2 separate regions of the Homo sapiens genome follow, and region 2 is linked to region 1. The links come from fine-mapping of genetic effects on gene expression. Tissue or cell type: putamen. Region 1 holds a variant in brackets; the other region holds the start of a gene. All regions are shown on one strand. Distances are from middle to middle.

Region 1 (8,104 bases):
TTATTGTGTCACAAAACAAGAAAGTCTTCAAAGAATGATGAGAACGTGGCAAAAGAACAAAGAAGACAGTTTAGAGGGGTATCTACTTGCCAAAACAGGGTCAATTTAAGCATCAAAATAAATAGTAATGGACTATAACCCATCAAAAAAATATGAAACCTGGCCAGGCGCGGTGGCTCACACCTGTAATCCCAGCACTTTGGGAGGCTGAGGTAGGTCATTTGAGGTCAGGAGTTTGAGACCAGCCAGGCCAACATGGTGAAACCCCATCCCTACGAAAAATACAAAAATTAGCCAAGTGTTAGTGGCGTGTGCCTGTAAACCCAGCTACTCAGGAGGCTGAGGCAGGAGAATCGCTTGAGTCCGGGAGGTGGAGGATGCGGTGAGCCGTGATCGCACCACTGCACTCCAGTCTGGGCAATAGAGTGAGACCCTGTCTCAAATACAAAATAAAATAAAAATAAAAAAATAAGAAACCTGAGTCCATACAGATATAAACCAATAAACTGAAGGTCTGATGAAGAACTGAATATTTACATAGTTTCAAAGCACATTTTACAAAATAGCTATCAACTACCAGCTAAAACAAGTAAAACAAGAAAAATAATTTTGCAATTACTAAAATTGTAAAATTGTGGGCAAGTCTAGCAGACACCAAGTGATCAGAATGGACATCATCAGTAATGGGATAAATAAAAATTGTGTGCCACCTAATAGGATGCAATGAGACAAACACAGCTTCACTTCTGTGGCATTTCTCCCAAAATTGCATAATTTGAATCTAATCAGGATGAAACATCAAATTTAGGGACAGTCTACAAAACAACTGGAGGGCAACTTTCCAAAGTGTCAAGGTGACAAAACCCAAGGAAGACTAAGGAACTGTTCCATATCAAAGAGACTAAAGAGACATGAAAACTAAATTCAACATGTAATTGTGAACTAGATCTTTTTGCTATAAAAGACATTATTGAGACAATTAGTGAAACTAGAATGGGTCTGAGAATTAGTAATGTATCAACATTTCCTGATTCTGTTGGTTGTAATATGGTTGTGTAGGAGAAAGCCTTACTTACAGGAAATAAACACTAAAATGTTAGAGGGTGATAGGGCATCCATTTAGCAATTTAATTCTCAAATTGTTATAGTGTAAAGAAGACAGGCACTTTCATCACCTCTTGGGCTAGGTAAAGGTTGCAAAGACAGGTCTATAGAGGCCAGGAAAGAAATGACTAAAACAAGCTGCATGTAAGGTAGGGACTGAGGGCACCTGGCACACCACTTAGCACATATACAGACCATCTGGAATGGAATGCAAGTCCAGAGTGGCAAGATCACCCTATTTTTCAATAGAAACCAAACATCCACATTGTTATGTGAAATCTCCCTATTTTTAAAACACTCAAAAGGGCCAAACAAAATATGTCTGTTGGCTAAATCTGAACCACAGCTACCTCTGGTCCAGAGACATGTTTCTCAAACTGAGGCTTAGGGATAAAAGGAAGCCACATGATACATACACGGAACATATTCTTGGAGCCGCAGTTTTATCTCAAGGGTTTGCCTGGAATTTTCTGGAAGACAGGATAGTTCCAATTTTTTTTAATGCCATACTATGAAGTATAATGCAAAGTTCATACAATTTTTTTAAACTTTTCATTTGAAAATGATTCCAAACTCACAGAAAAGCTGTAAGAACAAAAACAGTACCAAGAATATCCACATAGCTTTCACCAAATTAACCTATTATTAACATCTTACCCGTTGGCTTTATTTACACACATGCACATATGCATGCTCTGTCCCTCCCTCCCTCTATATGTACACGTATCTGTGTGTATATATAAAACACATATGGCCGGGTGTGGTGGCTCATGCCTGTAATCCCAGCACTTTGGGAGGCTAGGTGGGTGGATCACTTGGGGTCAAGAGTTCCAGATCAGCCTGACCAACATAGTGAAACTCCATCTCTACTAAAAATACAAAACTAGCCGGGCATGGTGGCATGTGCCTGTAATCCCAGTTACTCGGGAGGCTGAGGCAGGATAATCGCTTGAACCCGGGAGGCAGAGGGTGCAGTGAGCCAAGATCATGCCACCGCACCCCAGCCTGGGCGACAGAGCGAGACCCCATCTCAAAACAAAACAAAAAACCCCCATATATGTATTACCTTTGTTTCCTAAACCATAAGCTATAAACATCATGGACCATTCTCCATAAAAACTTGGGTATGTATTTCCTAAGAATAAAAATATTCTCTTACATAACCTGAAGACAGTTACCAAGTTCAATAAACATTAATGCAATACTTACCACCATCCACATGCCAATTTTGCCAAGTGATCCAATAATATCCTTTATTGTATTTTCCCCTCTATACAAGATCCAGTCTAAAATCAGGTAGTTCATTTAGTTACCACATCTCTTAAGTCTTCTTTAGTCTGGAATGTTTCCACAGACTTTGTCTTTATAATATTAAAAAAAAAAAAAAAACCCAGCTCCCCGACGTTTTAAAAAATAGGATGTTCCCCATCTGGAGTTTAAAATTTCCTCATGATTAGATTCAGGCTATGAATTCATGGCTGAAAAACACTGTAACTGATGTGCTCTTTTCTGGGTATCACATGCAGAGACACACAAATCCATTGGTGATATTTATTTTGATCATGCACACAAGGTGTTGTCTGATTTCACCACCATATTGAGTTACTGTTTCCCCCCCTTACAAGTAATAAGCATTATATGGGGGGAAATTTAAGACCATGCAGACAACCTGCTTCTCACCAAAATATCCCCCTAGATTTAGCACCTATTGATGATTCCTGTCTAAACAAATCTTTATTATAATGGATGCAAAACAATCATATAAATTTTAAAGTTAAATAGATTTCAACTTTTGCCTACACTCCCAGATCCCTTAGGTGTAAGTGCTCAGCCCCCTCCACTTTAGAAGCGCTATAGTGCAATGGTTTGAGTGTACCAATCAGGGACAGCTTCCTGGGGAAAAAATGTATTTCAGCAAATAAGTGGGGAACCAGTCAAGACACAGACAACTCCATCAGATCAGCTTAAAAATAAAATACAGCAATATGGTAAATCCTCTTTTTTGCAGTTGTTGTTTTTGGCTCCCAGGGATCTCTCACGTGACAGGCACCACACGGGGGATACTCACCACACTACAAACAAGGAAAATCCTCTTTCTTATTTGAGACAGGGTCTCGCTGCTCGCTCTGCTGCCCAGGCTGGAGTGCAGTGGCATATCATAGCTCACTGCAGCCTCCACCTCCTGGGCTCAAGCGATCCTCTCACCTCAGCCTCTCAAGGAGCTGGGCATGCACCACCACGTTCAGCTAATTTTTGTTTGTTTTTTTTTTTTGGTAGAGACAGGGTCTCACTATGTTGCCCAGACTGGTCTTGAACTCCAGGCCTCAAGTGATATTCCTACCCTGGCCTCCCAAAGTGCTAGGATTATAGGTGTGAGCTATACCACCTGGCCTGAAAATTCTCTTTCAAAGTAAAGAATTGATTTGCAAGGTAAACATACCCTAGCCCTACCAATTTTATAAAATCACTTCTTTACATACTGAGTTTGCCTGAATTACACTGATTCTACAACTAATAAATATCTTTCTGCTGCTGCTGCTGTTAAACATATTCTAATTATATTCAGATTCTAAAAACTTGTCAAAGACATAGCCCGCAATGATTACTTCTGATTGTTCATCCACCTTTTCATGTATGTCAACCTTTCCACCTATTCTCTCAAAGATAGGGATTAGCCACTAAAAATGTATCTTTCATCTGATTGTGACCAACAGAAATTTTACACTGAAATCTAAGACAAATATATGTAACTGAAATTAAATGTTCCATGAAGCAATATCACACGAAGTACTGATATTTTACATTATCTCTTCCTCTTCTCCTCATTTTTCTAATGTTGGTCCTGACCACGACTAAACTGATTTCAAAAACCATTAACAGGTCATGCACATGACTTGTACTTGAAAATACCCTAGAATCTGGCACAGAATTCTTTATCAGATTCCCAATAAAGTCTAGAACATTTCACTTATTTCAGGTGAAATGAGAAATAAGAACATAATGAGTTTTTGTTTGTCTGTTTGCTTGTTTGAGACGGGGTCTCGCTGTGTCACCCAGGTTGGAGCCCAGTAGTGTGATCTGCGCTCACTGCA[A/G]CCTCCACCTCCCAGGCTCCAGCAATCCTCCCACCTCAGCCTCTCGAGTATCTGGGACCACAGGCGTGCACCACCATGCCTGGCTAATTTTTTTGTACTTTTGGTAGAGACGGGTTCTCACCATGTTGCCCAGGCTGGTCTCAAACTCCTGAGCTCAAGTGAGCCGCCCGCCTCAGCCTCCCAAACTGTTGGGATTACAGGCGTGAGCCATATTTAATTTTCAAAGTAATTTTACAATTTTTTATTCTGAGATTGTGTATTACAATCTTTTGGTCTTCAAATGTCATTTCTTTAAAAAAAAAAAGAGGTATGAAAGTGAAGGTTGTTAAGTTGTCAACTATATACTAGTCCCTAATTTATTTCCTCCACATTTTACTGGATCATGAAATCTCCACTGCAAGACTTCAAAGACACATGAGAGTTTCAGCCTTCAATAAAACCTTCAATACAGCCTTCAAGAGGTTTATAATTTGGCTTAGGCATGGTACCTGCAATCCCCCAGCACTCTGGGAGGCCTCAGCGGGCAGATCACTTGAGGTCAGGAGTTTGAGACAGGCCTGGCCAACATGGTGAAACCCGTCTCTACTAAAAATACAAAAATTAGCTGGGTGTGGTGGCATACACCTGTAACACCACCTAGTCGGAAGGCTGAGGCAGGAGAATTCCTTGAACCCAGGAGGCAGAGGTTGCAGTGAGCTGAGATCATACCACTGCACTCCAGCCTGGGCGACAAAGCAAAACTCTGTCTCATAAAAAAATAAATAAATAAAAATAAAACCAATTTGGCTCAGGGAAATAAGACATAACAATTGTAAGATCTGTAATAATTACTTTCACCTTATAACTATTGGAATAAACATTCTGCAATAAGTACCCCAAGAGTGGTCCTATCAAGTGTTCACGGAAGAATACTTTGGGCTGGGAATGAAAAGAAGTAAACATTTTTAGAAAGGAAATAATATTTGAGTTGAGCCTTGAAGGGTACTGAGAATAGTCATCAGGATGAAAAGATGAAAATGTGAGGAATAAGAAATAGGTCATTTTGGTCAGAACATGGTAAGACAGTAGAAAGAGATGACAGAGGACTTGAGAAGATGTTAAGAGGCTAAGATGTTTGAATGTAGTCATTAAAGCAATGAAGCAATCTGAGAGGGTGAATAGCACAATCAAAGCATGGCTTTAGGAAGATAAATCTGAGGGCCCTGTACAAAATAAACTGGACAGGTGGAGATTCTCGACGCCATGCAATAATCCACGCATCGAATAATAAGTACCTGAACTATAGCGGTGGAAAAGAAAAGGGATGAGAAAAGGTGACAAGAATTGACAAGTCTTAGAAGAGATTCTAATGCCCTAGGCAAAAATGGCAAAGAATCAAAACATGATTCTGAAATTTCAAACTGGGTGATACAGTCAGTGGGAAATAAGGAAAAGAAGCTGATTCAGGAGAGAAGTTCAGATTCAGGTATGTACCTGAGGGTTATAAAGAGTCAGTATTGGAGTAGAGAAAAGACCACTGGACTCCATCAGAAAAATCTGAGTTCAAGTGGGAAAAAAAAAAAAAGGTTAGGATCCAACGAAAAAAACAGAATGCAAAATTATGTCTGCAGTATGATTTTAACTATTAAAAAACTAAGCATAGGAAAAGACTAAGAACAAGTACATTAACATGTTAACATCAGCTGCATACAAATGGGCTAAAGATAATTTATTTTTCTATTCTTCTTTCCTTTCTATGGTGTTTTATTTAAAAATAATATGATGCTGGGCATGGTGACTCACACCTCTAATCCCAGCACTTTGGGAGGCTGAGGTGGATGGATCACTTGAGGACAGCAGTTCAAGACCAGCTTGGCCAATATGGCAAAACCTCTTCTCTATTAAAAATACAAAAATTAGCTGGGTGCGGTGGTGCACACCTGTCATCTCAGCTACTCGGGAGGCTGAGGCACAAGAATCGCTTGAATCCAGGAGGCAGAAGTTGCAGTGAGCCAAGACTGTGCCACTGTACTCCAGCCTGGGCGACAGAAACTCTGTCTCAAAAAAACAAAATAAAATAAAATAAAAATAATATAGATACAAACACTCCCAACCATACAAAAAAAGAAAAAACCTGGACTTAACCTTTTAAAAAAATAACACACTCTTGGCCAGGTGCGGTGGCTCACGTCTGTAATGCCAGCACTTTGGAAGGCCGAGGCAGGCGAATAACAAGGTCAGGCGATCACAACCATCCTGGCTAACACAGTGAAACCCCATCTCTACTAAAAATACAAAAAATTAGCCAGGTGTGGTGGTGAGTGCCTGTAGTCCCAGCTACTCGGGAGGCTTGAGGCAGGAGAATAGCTTGAACACGGGAGGCAGAGGCTGCAGTGAGCCAACATGGTGCCACTGCACTCCAGCCTGGGCAATAGAGCAAGACTCCGTCTCAAAAACAAACAAACAAACAAAAACACGGCCAGGCACGGTGGCTCACACCTGTAAGGGAGGCCAAGGTGGGTGGATCACACAAGGTCAGGAGTTCAAGACCAGCCTGGCCAAGATGGTGAAACCCCGTCTCTACTAAAAATACAAAAATTAGCCAGACATGCTGGCGGGCACCTGTAATCCCAGCTACTAGGGAGGCTGAGGCAGATAACTGCCTAAACCCGGGAGGCGGAGGCTGCAGTGAGCCGAGATCGCGCCATTGCACTCCAGCCTGGGCAACAGAGCAAGACTCTGTCTCAAAAAACAAACAAACAAAAAAAAACCACTTTCTAGACCTTTTTCACCTATAAAAGTATAATAATTTATCTCCCAAGGTTAGTATGCAAATTAAATGAGATAAAAGCTCTTTGTAAACTGTAAATAAGGAATGCTTTAAAATAATATTTAAAAATCATATACAGCATGCAAAATTAAGGTATTATAAAAGCCTAAGACAGCTAAAGGACAAGAGATCATATACCGACATACAAATATACTACAGGGTCAGGCACAGTGGCTCACACCTGTAATCCCAGAACTTTGGGAGGCCAAGGTGCGTGGCCATCACCCGAGGTCAGGGGTTTGAGACCAGCCTGGCCAACATAGTGAAAACCTGTCTCTACTAAAAATACAAAAATTAGCCAGGTGTGGTGGTACACAACTGTAATCCCAGCTACTCAGGAGGCTGAGGCAGGAGAATCGCTTGAACCCAGGAGGCAGAGGTTGCAGTGAGCTGAGATCGTGCCATTGTACTCCAGCCTGGGAGACAGAGCAAGACTCCGTCAGACACACACACACAAAGAAATATACTATAGATTTGGGAATCTTCCACACTGAGGTAATACTAGATGAAGTAGATTCTTTCCCTAAACTTTTTACAAGTATTAGAATCTATTTTAAAAATCAAAATATTTTTCTAAAATTTCTTATGAATATTGAAGTTTTACATGTTACAGAAATGGACTCCCACATACAAAATACAGTATTTTGCTACATGTTATTCCAACTTACACATAAGACAGAAAAAGACTCCCTAGAATTTAAACTGCTAAATTATTTCATTGTTTTAAAAAGCCAAGCTCTGCAGAGATAAATCTAGCAATCAACAAATGTTCTCTCAGAAGTTACTTGCTTGAAACATAGCACAGCATTCTAAATGGTGCTTCCTCCCTTCATCCCCATTTCTGGTACTTAGGCTTAATAATAAACATCTCTACATACAGTACATACTTTATTTATTTATTTATTTTTTAGAGGCAGAGGTTTGCTCTGTGGCCCAGTGGAGTGCAGTGGTACAATCATAGCTCACTGCAACCTTCAACTCCTGTGCTCAAGTGATCCTCCTGCCTCAGCCTCCCAAGTAGCTGGGGTTACAGGCACATGCCACTATGCCTATTTTTGTTTTTTTTGCAGAGACAGGGTCTTGCTATGTTGCCCAGGCT
Region 2 (8,104 bases), 130 kb after region 1:
CAGGTCCTCACATGTCCTCTTCCCGCCCTAGGAGTGCCCCCTCAGCTCCCCGTCATCCTGCTGGCATGGGGGAAGGCCTCACTCTTGGGCTGTGACTTGGGGGGCCAGGGCAGCTCCAGGCACCCTCTTCTCTCTCCACCCCCTCCCCATCAGTCCAGGGAAGCCCCAGACCCTGGTGGGGTGGGGGGAAGGTAAGGGGAACAGCCCTGGGGCCTGGTTCTCATTTTCTTGCCCAGAGTCTGAGCCTTTGTGGGAAACTTCTGAAGGTTATTAAACACCCGGAGGTCGTTAAATGCGCTGTTAACGAGGTATTAATCAACACCCCTCAGGAAAAAATAAAAAGACACCATTAACCCCCCCCAGGAAGCGTGAGGCTGAGCATTTCAGTCACATCTTTTGTTTGGTTGGGAGAAGAAATATACTCTAGCAGGGCCAGAATCTGGGCCCAGGCAGGCCTGGGGGCCCATCCAAGGCCTGGGGGCCCCAGGATGACTGGGGGAGGGGGAGGTGGGGAGAGGTTGAGGGGAGGGGAGACCCTTGTGCCCTTTGGCCCTGGGCTATAGAGGAGTCAAGTCACGTGAGGGAGTGTGTATGCGTGTGTCAGGGGCGGGATGGGGAGGGGTCAAAGAAAATGGATAGAAAGATCTCGCCCAGGCAATCCCCATGACCAGAGAAAGCCCTGGGAGGTGCAGAATGGGGCCTGCTAGCCTGGGCATTTTCTATTAGAATCCACAGCACCAATTCTGGGCTGCTCAGAGAGGGAGGGTGGTGAGCCTGCACCACTAGGAACTCTAGAAATGTTCTCTAACTCCTCCCCAGTTCAGCAAACAGTCAAATGGTTTTGAAATTTTAAATAACTCAGAGGTATTAAAGCAGCATTATTTCTAGTTCCCTGTACACCTGCCCTGAAGCCTCCTGGGCAGGAAGACCCCACTGTAGGCTTCCCTGCCAGCAAAGATGGCCGTGTTTAGGAGGCCAGAGCGACACTGGCCTGATGGTCAGAAGATGAATGGGGGAGAGCCACCATCAAAGCAGTCCCTAAACTCACACTAAAGGGCCCCCCACTTTTCACTTTTCCTGGGTAGAAAGGACCTGTGACCCTCTCTCCCTTAGCAACCCTTGTGCCCTGGGGCCACTAACTCTCGTCTGGGACTCTACAATAAAGAGTCACACAGCTAACCCCAGACAACCCTGGTCTTGGTTTGGTGAGGGAAGGGTGAAAACTATTCTGTTGTAATTTTTTCTTTGGTGCCTTCAGAATTGGGCTGGGGGCCTGACATTTCAGAGGAGGACCGTCACGTGATATATATGTGGGGCGTTAGCTGAATGCTTGTCAGGAAGTTTGAGCTGGCGGGAAGAGTGAGGGACAAGTTTCTTAAAAGATAGGAAAGCACATCAAACATCAAACCCGTCTGAAGGGAGAGGGGTCTTGAGTCAAGTAACTAAGACTTTATGTCCTGCTAAGTCACTCAAGACCTCTCCACTCCCTCAGGATCTGGCTGACACCCTAGAGTTTCCAAAAAGTTCCCAAAAGTCCCTGGGAAGGAAAGAGTACAAGATCCTCCCAGTTAGAATGGCCACGTAACCAGGGGCTCACTCCCTGAAGCTGCAGACACGGTGTGAGCTGTGCAGCCAGGCTTCACTACACGCAAGTGTTGGTTCTGCCCGAGCTCCTGAGACCAGTTTGGGGCCCAGGGCCCGGTCACAAGTGTCTGACCAGGGTTGGGGAATACGATGGGGGAGGGGGAGACTGGGAGCCAACAGGAGTATAAACAACTTTTGGGCCAGTCTCTCCTGCTCTACGACGCCCACCCATCTCCCTCCAGGGCTGGGGTGCCATCTCACTCCTAAGGAAAGGAGAGAGGGACTCCTGGGTTTCCAGTCATTTCTGCTGGGTGCAGAAAGGTTAGTTTGAGTGGGCTGGTAGGTGGAAGGTGTGTGCAAGATTTCATCCGTTGGGGAGGCTGCACACACCCATGTTCACCGGGCCAACAGCGGTCAGGGATTCCCCTCTGTTTGCTCAGACATGTGCAAAGGGAATAGTCTGTCTAATCTTAGGATGGGGGGAGACCTGAGAGAGAGGACGTGGAGTGTTAGGGCGGTGCTGGGACTGTGAGAGGCCCACTCAAAGTCTAGCTTGGAGGGGACAAGGTGGGGGTTTCAGCTCTCGCCTGTGTCTCCAGTGAACAGGCGAGGCAGAGTCCCGTTGAGTAGGAACCTGAGCATTTGGCCTTCTCAACCTTCCAGCCTCTTGGCTATCTATATACACTCAGACAGTGTGACATTTAGATCCTCAGGCCGCCAGTCTGTCCACTGAGCTGAGACCTTCAGGCTTCTCCAGGGGCTCAAGGACCCACTTTAAGGCCTGGGGAACCCTTAGTTCACTTCTGGGAAGGACTGTGTTCCCTTTTTCTAGCCTGCTCCCCAGCCCCCTTCCAGTGTCTTCTGGGTGGCGCTGGAGGTGGGTGGGTGGGGAGACTCTATAGGAATCAAGCCTGACACATGGTCTCTTTCCAGCTCTTCCCAGCCCCACTGCTGTCCCGTCTCATTTTCAAAACCAGACAAATCACTGGAAGTTGGGAGAAGTTCCATCAAGAAGGGGGACTTTATCACACAGTTGGAATTCTGACTCAAGTGTCTTGGCTTAGGGTCATTTTGGCTTGGGGTAATATCCCTGGTGTTCAACCTCCTAACTCCAGCCCGGAGTAGAGTCCTAAATCCTAATGGACTGCCCCACCCCCTGAGTTTTGGGAGCCTCTGTCCTGGCCTGTCTTTAAGAGATGTGTGGAAGCCGAGAAACCCAGGAGTTCTCCGGTAAAGGGACGCCCACCCAGGAGTGAGAAGCAGGGTGGTGCAGTGGGAAGGGCCATGGTCCGGTTTCTGCGTCTAGCTTAGCCTGGGTGCAGTCACTGGCACTCCAGATCAAGGGGTTCTCTTCCAGCCAGGTTGACAAGGTCTTGGGCACTCCCAGCCAACACCGTTACCCCCGCGTCCCCACCCTCGTACCTGCAGCACGTTGGGGTGCCGCAGCCGCTCCAGCAGCACCATCTCCTTAAGCAGCTTGTGGGCCGCCAGCCGATAGCAGCCCCTCCGTACCCCGAACTCGCGCACGCAGCTGCCCAGATCGTGGCCGCTAAAGTCCACCGCCTTGAGCGCCACCGCGGCACCGCCGGGCAGGCGGACCCGGTACACGGCCTTGGTGTAGCCTGAGCCCATGTACTGCGCGCCGGACACGTTGCGAAGCGCGGCGCAGCCCAGGCGCGGGCCCGGGCCGGGGGAGCCTGGGCCGGGAGCCGGGGGCCAGCCTGGGGCGCCGTCGGACAGGGGCCGGGCCCAAGGGGGCCGGGGGCGCGGCAGGCCGGGCCCGCCCGGAGCCAGGTCCATCAGGCGCCGCCGCTCCGGCCGGCCCGCCCCGGGCCCGGGGCCCCCGCGGGAATAGCGCTGCACCTCCTCGTAGCGCGCCCGGATCTGCCGGGCCAGCTCCCCGCGGCCCCCGCGACGGCCCGGACCCGGGGCCGGCGAAGGCTCAGGGGACTGGCCTGGCCTCGGAGGCTCCGAGCCCGGAGCGAAGAGCACGTTGAGGACGGAGCCCAGCAGGAAGGAGGCGCAGAAACCCGCGGCCACTGCCGCCCGCCGGCGCCGCATCGCTCCCCTCCCCCCGGCCGGCCGGCCCCGCGCGGCTCCCCGGCCCCGGCCCCGGGCGGCTCAGGCTCCGAGGCGGCTCCGCTCTGCGCCCCGCCGGCCCCCTGCCCAGCCCGCGCGCATGGCCCCGGCGGCCCCGACCCCGGCCCCTCGCGGGCGACACATCGGCCTGACACTTGCCTCCCTGCCGCCCTGCCCCCGCCGCTTATAAGGCCCAGAGCCGCCCCCCGCCCCCGCCCCCGCCCCCTCCCCCGCCCCCTCCCCCGCCCCTCCGCCTCCACCTCCCAGCTCCCGGCCCGAGCCCGTCCTCGGCGCCGCCCCCTCCGGCCGCCCGGCCCGGCCTTCCCCGCTGACTGACAGCGGGACCTCCTCCCGCGGCCGTCCGGGCCTGGGAAGCGGCGCGGAGGCGGCTCCGGTCCTGCCCAGCCCGCGGTCCCGCCCAGCCCGCGGTCCCCCGAGCTCCGTCTGGGAGCGGGGGAGGGGGCGGCGGCGGCCAGGAGGCGCGCGGGGGCTCCGCGCCCAACGCGAGGGCGGATAACGGGGCCGGGGCGGCCGGATAACGGGATTGGGAGGTGGATAACGGAGCCGGCCGGGCGGAGTGGGGGAAAGATAAAGGGGCGAGGCCGGCGGGTAGCGGGCTCCGGAGGGGACGAGCAGCTAAGTCCGGGGTGCGGAGATCCGAGTGATCTCAGCGCTCCCTCCTGGGACTGGGGGCCTCGGGGCGGTTTGGGCGCAGGGAAGGCGCGTGGACCCCGTCTCTCGCGGGTGGGGCCGGGGGTGGCGGCTCCTCGCTCAGCCCCGGATTCCGGATTGGGGCGATGGTGAGGGGGAAGCGGGCACAGCCGGGCCAGCACCTGCGAGCGCGCGTGGGACAGGAGCTCTAGGCATAGAGGAATGCTCGTGAGCTCGCCGAGGATGCCCTGTTCAACTCCTTTTACCAAAGTGTTTCTGATTTTCCTTGCCTCTAAAGCCCCAAATGCAGCTGGGGGTCGCTCCCTACCCCTCAAGATGCCTGGGGTCTGACGGGGTCAGCCGCGTATAAGAAACCATGTGCATGCTAGTAGCTTGGGCAAAGAGTGCGTTTGTGCCCACGGACGGCTGTCTGTGGAGTGTGTGCCTCGGCGTGTCTGAAGGGGCCATTGTGTCCGATGAAGGGAATGTGTACCTTGTGTGTAAGTTGGTGCTGACGCCACCAGAACTTCGGTCCCTCCTCCTCCCTCCCTGATTGCATCATTAGTGCTAATTGAGGGGCTTTCACACGCCAGTGCACTAGCTGTTTGGAGTGAGCTCCCCCCTCCTGGGAGAGATAAGCCGCTGCCCCTCCCCCTCGCAGCTCTCCTCTTCCCCGCCACTCTGAAACTGCCCACCTAGATCCTCTCACCTTCCTGGGCAGCTTCCTGCCTCCCTCTGGGCCAGGTTAATCTCTGTCCTCCTCACAGTGTCAGGGATTGGCTGGGGAGGGGTCAGGGAGGAGAAGGGTCCACAGCCTTTTTTCTGGGGGTGGGGGTGGGTGGGGGGGTATCCAGGGAGGGGAGATTTTCCCTGAAGAGGTCTGGCGTTCCTACAGAATGCAGTGTCTGTGATGAGAAAGGGACAGGAATTTCTGCCCTGTTCCTTTGGACATGGAAGGACCGAGGAGAGAGCTGAGTCCCTGATCTCCAGCCTATGATCCCACTGAGGTGGGCCTTCCAGCCCGGACTCCTTGTTCTCTATGGCTTGGGGAGTTGGGGCCCAGTCCGACTTGGCAAGCATGGAAAGGCAGGGTGAAGGAAGCCATGATTCCTCCGAGAACACTGGGTCTGGTGGAGTCAGGTCTGTACCGATAGAGCTGTTCTGCCCCACTCTGGGCCGTGGCTGCAGTCTGCAGGGTGTAGGGGGAAGGCTCTGAGCAGATGCCCTCTCCGCAGCCTTGCACCAGATGTCTTTGGTCTAATTAACTGTGCTGGGAAAACCAACCTGGGTTTGTAAACAGAGCTACTGGCTAAAGTCAACAGGGAACAGCAGCAAACAGCAAACCATTCCCCTCACACTCAGCCTTGGTCCAATTCAGACCCCTGGGGAAAACGGGGAGCTGGGTGGATTAGGAGGCCCCCCCCGGCCCACAGCTGAATCAGGAAAAGCCTGTCTGCCTGTGTCACCCCAATATGGCTGCTAGTTCCTTATCAGTTCCATGTCTTCTTTTCTGGGGAGGAATGAGGATTTTGGGAGGAACAGTTGCCATCCCAAGATAGGCTCTGTCCTCCTTCCAGCAATTTCCCCATAGACATCTACCCAGCCAAACGTCTCAATCCGTGAGGGAGCTGTTGTGGGGGAATATTCCCTGAAGAACTTTCTTTGGGGCTTGCTCTGCCCTTGTGTTTTGGAGAAACTTCTGAGGGTAAAACTTGGCGTTGTGAGTCTACAGCTCAGAGTAGGTGAATATAACATGAACATTGTTAAGTTTGTTACACATCATGTAGGTATTATAATAACATGTTCTGAAATTAGATAATTATTCCTGTGATATCTTTGCCAAGCTTCAGTGTTTCTGTTATGGTTTGAAAGTTCAAGGCACACAGGGGCCTGAGAAACAGGCACAAATGTGCGTGCAACACACACAGGTCCACGGAGCAGTTCAGAGCAGTAGCTCACACACAGGAACAAAGGCATCTCAGTGGCCTCCCTCGCATACTCACTGTCTCCCTCACCAGCTCTCAGACACAGACATATACAATCTGAGATGGAAATGGGTTTTTGGCTTCTGAAAGAAAGGGATTGAACTTTTTGAGCAGATTAGAGTTTCTGAATTGGCAGTTCTTGAGTTCTTAACTATATTTTGCTTGTTTGCTTTTTTTTTTTTTTTTCCTTTCTGCCACCCAGGGAGAGGAATCATTTCAAAGAATTGAAATACATGAAATGCTGCTGCAGGCCCCTGATCTGCAGTCTGCCCACCCACTCAAAGACCAGGTGGAGCCCATAGCCTGGGCCTCACAGGCCAGAGTCTGCAGGCCAGTGTCCAGCTCAGAGCCCTCAGTGCCATCTTCATACAGGAGCCATCAGCTGGCAGTCCTCCCTGTCTCCCCCAGGGCTTCTGGCAGCCCTCAGACCACAGTGTCTGTGCAAGGTCTGGAAGGCTCAGTACGTCCAATGCTCTATGCTTTCTTGCTCCCTCTATCTTTCTGCCATGCTCCTACCCCACTCAAAACACTTACTTGGATATTAATCCTTGGGAAGAGGGCAGATGGCCCAGACTCCAAAATGCTAAATTTTCTTTAAGGTGTCTTTTAAATACCTTCTTTCTGCATGTTTCTGTCACATCATCCTAGACTGTCTGAAGGGTTATTCTAGCCTCCCATCTGCCTTCTTTATTGTCCATCTTTTTCTCTGCAGGCCAAGGCTCAGACACCTCTTTTGGAGTATTACTGTCCTACTCAAAAACCTGGAGGATAAGCTGAACTGGCCTTCAGGCCTCCATGAGCTGGCCCCAGCCCCCCACCTAAGCCTGTGTTCCCCTTTCCATTCCTCCACACAAAGTCAGACTCCTCCTGCACCAGCTCCTGCCCCAGCCATCATCTGCGTTTTCCCATCAGTGCCCTCTCTCCCAGTTCCTCTTCCTGAAATACCATCTTCTAGCCTTTCCGCTTAATCTTTGCCAAGTGGTCCTTCAAGGCCTCCCAGAAAGTGTTGAGGTAGAGATAATGCTTCTGCAACTGGGGTCGTGTTGCAGAAGGTCCTTGGGATATTGAGTGTCTATTCTTAGAGTTTTGTGGAGAAAGGAAATGTACATAATACATTTCTCAGGTCTTGGAAAACTTGATGTAAAGAGCTTGGGATTTGGAATCAGGGATTCAATCTCATTAACTGAGTGACCTAGTATTTACACAAATTTCAAACAAACAAACATCTGTGACAACATCTTATACAACTTGGTTGGGTATAACTCTGCCAGGGGGCAGAAATAACTTGAACCTCTCTTTTCTTCTTTCTTTCTTCCCCTTCCTTCCTTCCTTCCTCTCTCTCTGTCTCTTTCTTTCTTTCTTTCTTTCTTCCTTCCTTCCTTCCCTCACTCCCTCCTTCCCTCCCTCCCTCCCTCCTTCCTTCCCTCCTCTCTCTCCTTCCTTCTTTTCTTTTCTTTTCGTTTCTTTTCTTTTTTCTTTTCTTTTCTGATAGGGTCTTGGGTCTTGCTCTGTTGCCCAGTCTGGAATGCAGTGGCCCGATCTCGGCTCACTACAACCTCCACCTCCCAGGCTCAAGTGATTCTCCCACCTCAGCCTCCCAAGTAGCTAGGACTATAGGTGTGAGCCACTATGCCCAGCTAATTTTTGTATTTTTTTGTAGAGACAGGATCTCACTATGTTGTGGAGGCTGTTCTTGAACTCCTGGGCTCAAGCAATCCTACCTCATCCTCCCAAAGTGTTGGAATTACAGGGTTGAACTACTTTCTTTTGTTTTTCTTTTCTTTTTTTCTTTTTCTTTTTTTTTG

Evidence for each region. PIP is the estimated chance that this variant, and not a neighbour inherited with it, causes the effect.
Region 2: it holds the start of PKDCC, and the variant in region 1 is fine-mapped to the expression of PKDCC in putamen (GTEx, PIP 0.95).

Annotation. Positions count from the first base shown.
Region 1 is chr2:42,173,653-42,181,756 of GRCh38, reverse strand. The region is part of intron 1 of EML4 (EMAP like 4); the gene reads right to left. Among named protein-coding and RNA genes, the nearest start is that of EML4-AS1, 7.5 kb to the right of the region's middle. The variant A/G (reference allele first, on the strand shown) is at 4,197.
Region 2 is chr2:42,043,741-42,051,844 of GRCh38, reverse strand. It overlaps PKDCC (protein kinase domain containing, cytoplasmic), which reads right to left and starts at 3,824. Exons shown (of 7, transcript NM_138370.3): 1 at 3,007-3,824. The coding sequence starts at 3,645. RefSeq lists enhancers at 1,721-2,222, 2,936-3,195, 4,696-4,815, 4,439-4,943, 4,944-5,447 and silencers at 3,236-3,305, 3,436-3,535, 3,546-3,725, 3,876-4,125, 4,236-4,525.